2 separate regions of the Homo sapiens genome follow, and region 2 is linked to region 1. Evidence: fine-mapped expression QTL. A gene starts in region 1. The other region holds a variant in brackets. All regions are shown on one strand. Distances are from middle to middle. Region 1 holds the start of ZNF605 (zinc finger protein 605). Region 2 overlaps ZNF268 (zinc finger protein 268).

Evidence for each region.
Region 2: its variant is fine-mapped to the expression of ZNF605 in whole blood (Lepik 2017, PIP 0.95).

What each region holds. Positions count from the first base shown.
Region 1 is chr12:132,953,990-132,959,366 of GRCh38, reverse strand. It overlaps ZNF605 (zinc finger protein 605), which reads left to right and starts at 3,061. Exons shown (of 5, transcript NM_183238.4): 1 at 3,061-3,124. LOC124903064 (a long non-coding RNA gene) reads right to left here and starts at 2,818. Exons shown (of 2, transcript XR_007063552.1): 1 at 2,637-2,818. RefSeq lists enhancers at 2,851-2,930, 2,684-3,512, 3,790-4,084, 3,513-4,343 and a silencer at 3,091-3,430.
Region 2 is chr12:133,206,115-133,211,491 of GRCh38, reverse strand. It overlaps ZNF268 (zinc finger protein 268), which reads right to left. Exons shown (of 6, transcript NM_003415.3): 6 at 1-5,377. Among named protein-coding and RNA genes, the nearest start is that of ANHX, 27 kb to the left of the region's middle. The variant CG/G (reference allele first, on the strand shown) is at 2,603.

The sequences.
Region 1 (5,377 bases):
AGGCCAAGACAGGCGGATCACCTGAGGTCATGAGTTCGACACCAGCCTGGCCAACATGGTGAAGCCTCGTCTCTACAAAAATACAAAAAATTAGCCAGGCATGATGGTGGGTGCCTGTAATCCCAGCTACTCGGGGGGCAGAGGCGGGAGAATTGCTTCAACCCAGGAGGCAGAGGTAGCAGTGAACTGAGATCGCGCCACTGCACTCCAGCCTGGGTGACAGAGCAAGACTCCATCTCAAAAAAAAAAAAAAAAAAAAGGCGTATAAATTCTAGTAAGTCATTTAATAAATGACACGCTTAACCTCGGAGAAAAGTGAAAATCATAAATCTGTGAACAGCAAAATTTTCTGAGAACAAAAACAAAACTACCTTAAAGCAGAATTTTAATTTTAGCTCTGTTGAGCATGGAATTGGTTTGCTTAAATAAAGTTGAATCTCAGTTAGAAGCAGGGCAATGTGGGCTGGGTACGGTGGCTCAGGTCTGTAATCCCAGCACTTTGGGAGTCCGAGACGCATGGATCACCAGAGGTCAGGAGTTTGAGACCAGCCTTGCCAACATGGTGAAACCCATCTCTACTAAAAATACAAAAAGTAGCTGGGAGTGGCTGGGCGCAGTGGCTCACGCCTGTAATCCCAGCACTTCGGGAGGCCGAGGCAGGCGGATCACGAGGTTAAGAGATCAAGATCAGCCTGACCAACATGGTGAAACCACGTCTCTACTAAAAATACAAAAATTAGCCGGGCGTGGTGGCGCACGCCTGCAATCCCAGCTACTCGGGAGGCTGAGGCAGGAGAATCACTTGAACTCAGGAGGCGGAGGCTGCAGTGAGCCGATATTGTGCCACTGCACTCCAGCCTGGGCGACAAGAGCAAAACTCCATCTCTCACAGGCTCCAAATTTACTAATATAGAATTGAGCAAAATATTATTTCATATATACTTTAATTTGGTCTTTATGGCCATTTCAATTTTTTAAATTGCCAATTGTGAGTGTGTTTCCTGTTTCTCCCCATTTTTATTTTAAAAAACTAATATGCTTTTACAGTTTTTCTTTTTCTTTTTTTTTTTTTTTAGACAGAATCTCACTCTGTCTCCCAGGGTGGAGTGCAGTGGTGAGATCTCAGCTCACTGCAACCTCTGCCTCCTGGGTTCAAGCAATTCTCATGCCTCCACCTCCTGAGTAGGTGGGATTACAGGTATGAGCCATTACAGGCATGAGCCACCACACCTGGCTAATTTTTATATTTTTAGTACAGATGGGGTTTCACCATGTTGGTCAGGCTGGTCTCGAACTCCTGACCTCAGGTGATCCGCCCGCCTTAGCCTCCCAAAGTGCTGGGATTACAGGTGTGAGCCACCGCGCCTGGCCTGGCCAAAAAATATTTTTAAGAGAAGGTGTCTCCCTCTGTGGCCCAGGCTGGAGTGCAGTGTTGCCATCATAGCTCACTGCAGCCTCAACCTCCCAGGCTCAGGCAATCCTCCTGCCTCAGCCTCCAGTAGTTGGGACTACAGGGACAAGCCACTGCTTTATATATCCATAAATATATTTTATTTCCCTGTAATGTCCTCATCTCATTTATTTTTCCTTTTTTTTTTCTTGAGATGAGGTCTCACTCTGTTGCCAGGCTAGAGTGCAGCGGCATGATGGCTCACCGCAACCCCCGCCTCCCGAGTTCAAGTGATTCTCCTGCCTCAGCCTCCCGAGTAGATGGGATTACAGGCGCCCACCACCACGCCCAGCTAATGTTCTGTATTTTTAGTAGAGACGGGGTTTCACCGTGTTGGCCAGGATGGTCTCAATCTCCTGACCTGGTGATCCGCCCACCTCAGCCTCCCAAAGTGCTGGGATTACAGCCGTGAGCCACCGCGCCCAACCCTATCATCTATTTTCATTCCTTTTGTCAATACTGCTGGATTGGATGTACTAAATGTAAGGTCCTCTGAGCTGGCCGCACCATGGTCAAGCCATCGTGACATTCCCCCACCCTTGTGATAATGTACTTTGTAATATTCCCGGTCCTTGTGAATGTACTTTGTAACATTCCTCTCCGCCCTTGTGACAATACACCCTCCCCGCCCTTGTGAATGTACTTTGTAACATCCTCCCCTGCCCGCAAAAAATTGCTGCTGAGGCCGGGCGCGGTGGCTCACGCCCGTAATCCCAGCACTTTGGGAGGCCGAGGAGGGCGGATCACGAGGTCAGGAGATCAAGACCATCCTGGCTAACACAGTGAAACCCCGTCTCTACTAAAAATACAAAAAAATTAGCCGGGCGTGGTGGCGGGTGCCTGTAGTCCCAGCTACTCAGGAGGATGAGGCAGGAGAATGGCGTGAACCCGGGAGGCGGAGCTTGCAGTGAGCCGAGATCGCGCCACTGCACTCCAGCCTCGGCGACAGAGTGAGACTCTGTCTCAAAAAAAAAAAAAAAAAAAAAAATTGCTGCTGACTCCACCGCCTATCCTATCCCAAAGCTATAAGAACCAATGACAAGCCCACCACCCTCCGCTGACTCCTTTCTCAGACTCAGCCCACTTGCACCCAAGTGAATAAACAGGCGTGTTGCTCACACTTAGCCTGCTCAGGTGGTCTCCTATACGGACGCACGTAACACTAACATTTACCGATATTACTTACAGCTACGATGAAAAATGGAAAAGCAGCCGGACGCAGTGACTCATGCCTGTAATTCCAGCATTTTGGGAGGCTGGGGCAGGAGGATCATTTGAACCCAGGAGTCGGAGACCAGCCTGAGGCTGCAATGAGCGTTCATGGCACCACTGCACTCCCCACTGGGTGACAGAGCGAGACCCTGCCTCCAAAAAAAAAAAAAAAAAAAACAAGGAAAAGATGCAGACGCTTCCTCCTGGAGGCGCCTTTAGGTTCTCTCACAGACATGTTGGGCCAGCAGTGCTGGCTCCATCCTAGATTTCTTCCAGTCCTCCCCAGTTAGCCGCCAAGGGGCTTTTCCAACCGGAAACCTCCAATCCGCGACCCCGGCGGGTGCACCGCCGAGCCCCCCGGGAAGTGTAGTTCCAGCGCGAGCGGGACGCTGGGAAATGTAGTTCTGCGCGTTCACGTCCCCGATCGGGCCGTGTCCGCCGCGGCCCTGCGAGGTCCGAGGGGTAAGGGAGCGTGCAGCGGGGGCGGGACCACGAGGCGGCGGGGCTGGGGGCGGCCTCTGTGTCTGCGCCGGGGATCGCGGTGACCCCGCTGCGGACCGGCTCGCGGTGACCCCAGCGCGAACGAGCTGGCTGCCGGCTGGGGCGAGAAAGGCCTGCGGACCGGCCTGGGCGCATGCGCGGAAGGCGGGCCTCAGGCGGGGGCTCTGGGGGCGCGCGGGGGTGGGAGGCAGAGGGTGGGGTGGGGGCTGTAGGGCGGGCGGCGGCGGGGCGCTGAATGTGGGTGTCGGGGGAGATTTGGGGTCAGCTGGGCGATTCACTGGGGGCCTATGGAGGTCGCTGTAGACTTGGGGTGCAGCACGGGCGGGGCAAGGGGACGCGAGGTTGCCCTTGGCCCCAGGGGAGAGGGGCCCCTGGGAGGCCGTGTGGAGGATTTGTCTGCAGCGATTAGGACTCTGCTGATGAATGATTTGGATGCCTTTGGGTGAGCATTGGAGGCCAGCGGGGTGAATGATGAGGCTTCTGCGGGGGCCTGCGTTGGAGGGCTTAGGGGCTTGCTTGTGTGGGTTCCATTCACTGGAAAGCCTGCCGGCTGTGACAGTGTTGGATTTCACCAGAGCCCTGTGCTCCTGGAAAACAGCGAAGGTTGAGGAATTTCCCACCCTTTTGGGTTCCAGCAAATGGCTCACTGCAAAGATCTCCCGTTCCCTATATGACTTTGGTCAGCCTCCAGGATGCCCCTTGTTCACACAGACCTGCCACGTTGCCGTCGCTTGCCTCATCGGTGACTGGCTGAACTCCACCGAGCGGTCGGAGCAAAATGCTCCTTAAGCAAACTTTAGCTAAGCTTCTTTCCTTTCCCCATTTTCTTGAGCTTTGGCCCATCCCCAGCCTGAGCCAACACGCAGCCTCGCCTGAGAACAGGCTGGCTCAGGGTCAAGCTTTCCCCGCTCTGCTGTCTGGTCGCCCGCACTTCCACCTCGCTTGGCCAGGCCTGGTCTTTGCTAACCTTGTTCACACCTCTCTGTGAAAGAAAAACCCTTTTTGCCTTGCAGAGATGCACGTGAGTCTCGTGGCTTCACGGTTCTTCCCAGAAGCCCGTTCTCCTTCCCCTTCCCAACCCTCTTCCGCGTCTTTTTTTCCCCACTTCCAATAACCCTTTGGAACCGTCTTTCTTTGCTCTGTCCAGTTGTATGTTTTATTTGACAGCTGAATAACAGTGGTTGCTCTTTCAACCCCTGTCTCCAATAGCGGAGGCGAGTATGGGGTGGCCTATGCTGGCGAGTGGCTGGGGTTTGTTTCTGTGCTTGTGTTTGGGGATCTTATGATGGAAGCATTAGGAATGGCGCTGTGTATTTGTGACAAGGGAGTCTGGATGTAAGTTAATGGTGGACCTGTTGCAAGTTGTGAGTGCGTGGACAACGGGGGTCATACTTGGCGTCATTGGAGGGGCCTGCGGGATCGGCATTTGTGCAGAGCCCCACAATCCCTTTCCAGGTGGTGTTTGGGAGGGCCTGTGGGAATGTCAGTGAATGCTCCAGCATGGAGTGGATTAGAGAATGGGGTGTCATGGGGGCGAATGCTTGGGGGCCCCGGGGATAAGGGATTAGGGATCCCTGGGCATTGAGTGACTGGGGTCTAATTTAGGGGGTCTGTGGCGCAAGCCTCAGAATGTCAGTTACAGGGGAGGGGCTCTGTGAGCGCCTGACTTGGGCACCTGATGAAGTGAGTGAATGGAGACCAGTGTGTTCGTCCCAGGACAGAAGCCCCTTCTCCTCCCCTCCCCACCCTTCTCCTCCCCTCCCTACCCTTCTCCTCCCCCATCCTTCTCATCCCCTCCCCACCTCACCTGCAGGAGTGACTGAAGCCCCTTCTCCCCCGCTCCCCACCCTTCTCCTCCCCTCCCCAGCTCATCTGCAGGAGTATCTGAGTTCTGTGGGGATCCTTTGGGACTCAGAGTTTGGGGTTTCAGTCTGTGGTGATTCTTAAGTGGGGCTTTGGGGGTGCTGGTGATTATGGTGTCTGGCATCTGTATTTAAAAGCCCTGTGGGAGTCACTGAGGTCCAGTCATCAGTTGGGCCTGTAGGGATAACTCTGCCTGGCCTGTGAGGTCTATGGTGTGACGTAGGAATGGTAAGTGTCTGGGGGCCTGTGGAGGATTAGGAATAAAGGGTCCAGTGTACATCGTTGAATGGGGGACAGTTTTATTGGCTCGTGCCCTGGCATTGGCTTTGTTATTTGAGGGTGTTGGAACCA
Region 2 (5,377 bases), 250 kb before region 1:
GCCTCCGCCTCCGGAGTAGCTACCACTTGGTGGCAGAGTAGCGCCACCACGCCTGGCTAATTTTGTATTTTTAGTAGAGACAGGGTTTCTCCATGTTGGTCAGGCTGGTCTCGAACTCCGGACCTCAGGTGATCTGCCCGCCTCGGCCTCCCAAAGTGCTGGGATTACAGGCGTGAGCCACCGTGCCTGGCCACCATCTGTATATCTTTGGAAAGTATGTATTTGGATCTGTCCCCATTTTTAATTGGGTTGTCTTCTTGTTCAATTTTAGGGTTTTTTTTTTATATTTTGCATACAAACACTTTTTCAGATTTTTTTGAATGATTTTATTCATTACAAATTCCAATTATTGCTATACATTATTTCAAATATATAGGAAATCACTTGACTTTTGTCTATGGCCATCTACTTTGCCTTTTATTATCTCTATCCATTCCAATTAAGGCATGGAATGATGGACTCTATTTCAGTTTCGTTTTCCAAAATTATGGCATGGAAAATCGTAAGATTGAATTTCAGGGGTTCACTGGGACTGCAAGAGGGGGCACATGGCCATCACAAAACAGGAAGCACTGACCATCCAACACTGTGCCTAGGTAGTAAGGAAGGGGTGCAAGCACACACCTTGTCTAGCCTGCTTGCAGTACCTGCATTCTGCTCACAGACCTCTGGGTTGAATCCACAGAGGACCAGGCCTTCCTTCTACTCAGGACCTGGGGATCACTAGAGGCTGCATCACAGTAAAGACTGAGCTGCCTTCTCCTCAGGACTGACCTGGGGACCCTTGGCAGGGGGGAATCCACAGTGACAAACAGACCTTGCTTCTACTCAGGACCCGGAGACCCCCGAGGGCACTTCACAGTGATGACCAGAATTTACCTCATCTCAGGACCAACCTGGGGGATGCATCACACTGAGAACCAGAGCTTCCTTCTCCACTGGCCAACCTGAGGACCACTGTGGGGCACAACCACAGTGAAGACTGGAGCTTGTTTCTCTTCAGGACTGACCTAGGGACCCTAGTGGGGCAAATCCACAGTGAGGTTCTGAGCTTCCTTCTCCTCAGGACCAACCTGGGGACCCCTGGGAGGTAGATCACAGTGATGACCAGAGTATCCTCCTCAGGACTGACCCGTGGTGGGGGATGCAACCACAGTGAGGACTAAAGCTTCCTTTTCCTCACAACCTGGGGACCCCCTAGGGGGATACATCACAGTGAGATCCAGAGCTTCCATATCTGAAGACTCCTGTAGGGTACACCCACAGTGACGACCAGTGCACTTTCCGGACCAATCTGGGGCGATGTCATCTCACCTTTGGGATACATGGAGGCCACAGGAGGAAAAGATGAGGAAAAGTGAGGCCTGCACCCTGAGTGCTGAGGAGGGAGCTTTGCTGTTTCACTTTGCCCTGTAATATCTGAACAAGATTTATTTTAGGAAATCGTACCTCTATTGAGGTTTCCACTAGTCATCTTTATAGCAAGCCCAACTACTTTTTATACATATGGGTTTGTTTCTGGGGAGAAATCCCAGTACAAAAAAAGGGAGAAACACTGCGACAAAACACTGCAACAGTCCAGGTCAAAGTTGGGGATGAACAGCACCTGTGGGATCACCCTGGATCCCAAGAGGGAAGGGCAAATGTGCACCCTATGTGCTTGCTTTTATTAATTTTTTTTGAAGGAGTCTCACTCTGCTGCCCGGGCTGGAGTGCAATGGCACAATCTCAGCTCACTGCAACCTCCGCCTCTCCAGTTCAAGCAATTCTCCTGAGTAGCTTGGATTATAGATGCATGCCACCACAGCTGGCCAATTTTTGTATTTTTAGTAGAGACGGGGTTTCACCAGGCTGGTCTCGAACTCCTGACCTCAAGTCATCCACCTGCCTCAGCCTCACAAAATGCTGAGATTACAGGCATGAGCCACCATGCCCAGCCTTTTTATTAATGTTTTAATGGCCTGTGTTTCTAACAAGTAGTTGAAACAATGTTGAAAATTAAAGAGTAGACATGTTAAAACTTGCAACTTCATTTAAATTTAAATATATCATTTATACCAAAATCAGAATTTATTTAAGATTTATGGCTGGGTGCTTGGCTCACACCTGTAATCCTAGCACTTTGGGAGGCCAAGGCAGGTGGACTGCTTGAGCCCAGGAGTTTGAAACCAGACTGGAAAACATGGTAAAACCCCATCTCTACAAGAAATAAATAACTCTACCTGGCCCTTTAGCAAAGAATTAAGAAAAATCAATACAGACCAGTGGCTCACACCTGTAATCCCAGCACTTTGGGAGGCTGAGGGTGGATCACGAGGTCAGGAGTTCAAGACCAGCCTGGCCAACATGGTGAAACCCCATCTCTACTAAAAACACAAAAATTAGCTGGGCGTGGTGGCGTGTGCCTGTAATTCCAGCTACTAGGGAGGCTGAGGCAGGAGAATTGCTTGAACCCAGGAGGCAGAGGTTGCAGTGAGCCAAGAACACACCACTGCACTCCAGCCTGGCAATACAGCGAGACTCCATCTCAAAAAAAAAAAAAAAAATGCAAATACTATGCCATATAAGGAGCTTGAGCATCCACAGGGAGTATCTGTGGTTG[CG/G]GGGGGGTCCTCCATGAATACTGACAACTGCATACTTGCTACTCTACTGGCAGTTCCAAACATTTGTTTGTGGTTTATTTTGGGTTTCCTAATTACACGATCACATCTCCAATTCATGGCAGTTGTTTCTGCACCCATCCCTAATTCCTCACATTCCTTGTTTTCACACCTTGGCTAGATGTTACTCATTTCATAAAAGTGATGCGCATTCTTGTAATTTTGCTTTGTTTTTTACAGACAGGGTCTCACTTTGTTGCCCAGGATGGAGTGCAGGGGCATGATCATAGCTCACTGTAGCCTTGAACTACTGGACTCAAGCTAACCTCCTGCCTCAGCCTCCTCAGTAGGTGGGACTACCGGCACTTGCCACTACACCTGGCTGATCTTTTTTTTGAGATGGAGGCTTGTTCTGTCGCCCAGCCTGGAGTGCAGTGGTGCAATCTTGGCTCACTGCAACTGCCACCTCCTAGGTTCAAGCAATTCTTCTGCCTCAGCCTCCCGAGTAGATGGGATTACAGGCACGTGCCACCACACCTGGCTGACTTTTGTATTTTTAGTAGAGACGGGGTTTCACCATGTTAGCCACACTGGTCTTGAAATCCTGACCTCAAGTGATCTGCCCACCTCGGCCTCCCAAAGTGCTGGGATTACAGGCATGAGCCACGGCGCCTGACCACACCTGGCTAATCTTTTTAAAAAGTTTTTGTACAGACAGGGTCTCCCTATATTGGTCAGGCTTGTCTCGAACTCCTGGGTTCCAGCAATCCTCCAGCCTCAGCCTTCCCAAGTGCTGGTATTACATGGATGAGCCACTGCACCTGGCTAATTTTACTTTAAAGGAATCTTTCTACTATTTTATCATTAAGTATGACATTTGTGTTTTCAGAACATATATTCCCTACCAAGTTACAGGAGTTAATTTTAATTCCCAACTTAATAGTATTTTAGTGTCATCTATGGGTGTTAAATTCCATCAAGTGATTTATCAGCATATACTGAGATAATCCTTATGAGTTTTATCTGGTAGTTAATTAAAATATTTTCTAATATTAAATCTTCCAAACATACTCTTCTGTTTTTTGAGACAGGGTCTAGTTCTGTCACCCAGGGTGGAGTACAGTGGTACGATCTCAGCTCACTGCAACTTCCGCCTCCTAGATTCAAGTGATTCTCCCGTCCCAGCCTCCCAAGTAGCTGGGATTATAGGTGTCAGTTACCATGCCCTGCTATTTTTTTGTATTTTTAGTAGAGAGGGGTTTCACCATGTTGGCCAGGCTGGTCTCAAACTCCTGACCTCAGGTGATCCACCATCTCAGCCTCCTGAAGTGCTGGGATTATAGGTGTGAGCCACCGTGCCTGGCCCCATATATCTCTTTTTAAGTGGGCATACTGCCATTATAAATAATAGTGATTCTGCTGGTAATGAACAAAGGATGCTGGATCCACTAATAGTCTGTTAAACCTAATATCATGACTTTCTTGTTAGCTATACATTGGTTTGCTATAATTCCATTTAGAATTTTTAAACCTATGTTCACAAATATGGATTTTTAAACCTATGTTCACAAATATGGATTTTTAAACCTATGTTCACAAATATGGTTTGCAAGTCATTTTTTCTCCTAAATTTCTATTTGATGGGGAAGTTGTAAAATATTGGGGTTATTTTTCCTTGGATTTTCCTTATAATAACTATTCCTGAAAAGTCTCTGGAATGTCTTTCTTTTCTGGGGCTGGGGTAGAAGGACTAGATAGATTTACAAACCAGTAACTCAATTTCTGTTTTGTAAAATTTTCATTTCATTAAATAATAAGTCCTAATCAAGTATTATTCTTTCCCACAGTATGTGAGTGCTGTCCTCAATACTGTCAACACTTCTGGCTTCTACCAGGCAAGGCTGCATGTAGATTTGCATCTGAAAAAACAACAAACTAAAATCTAACCCTAGGTAGTAGTAAACTGAATATAAACTTTCTCTTATGAATTTATTCTGTCTTCTTTGGTACATCAATAATAATATACACCTTTACAGTATTTCCCAGATTGGGGGATACACTTTAGCAAGTATCTGCGATTATTTGTTTATGTAAGATGTCCCTTCCCTTCTGTGAATCATCATTCTTCACCCCAAGTATCTTGAGATTGGATTCTGTATAAGCAGAATACAACAGTTAGGCATTCAGGTATCATTAAATTCCTCCGCTTCAAGGATGAAAATTTCTTTGGGTATCTAATAGAGTACAAAGCAGAAGGTGTTTCAGAAATATTTGCAGTATTGAATCCGCATATTCCTCCAAGATAGCCCTAATCTAACTGGCAGGGTCCCACTCTTCCCAGATTAATGCCCACTCACATAACAAACCTGATGAGGTAGTGAAGAAAACTAACTTTGTGAGTAAGCAACTGGCAGAGTTTTTCACCACTGTGACTCTATAGCTACATGTAACTAAGTAGTATCACTGACACATAATCTTAAATTGAAGTTTTAAGATCATTATTCTCCATGTTATACATGGGTATCAAAAGCATTCCCCTCTTGACCACTCCAGAATTCTGTTTAAAATTTTTCAATGACAACTTATCCATTTCCCCAAAGCCTCAGTGAGCACATGATGCCAACAATTCATTTCATGACTTCATAGCATGGGCCAAGTTTCTTGCTTAAAAGACTTCCATCCTGTCTTGGGAAACAACCATTTCCAAATATCCACATATCCTTGCAAGTTTCTGCCTACTCCTCTACCACCCATTTCTGAAGCCATCTGATTTAGTA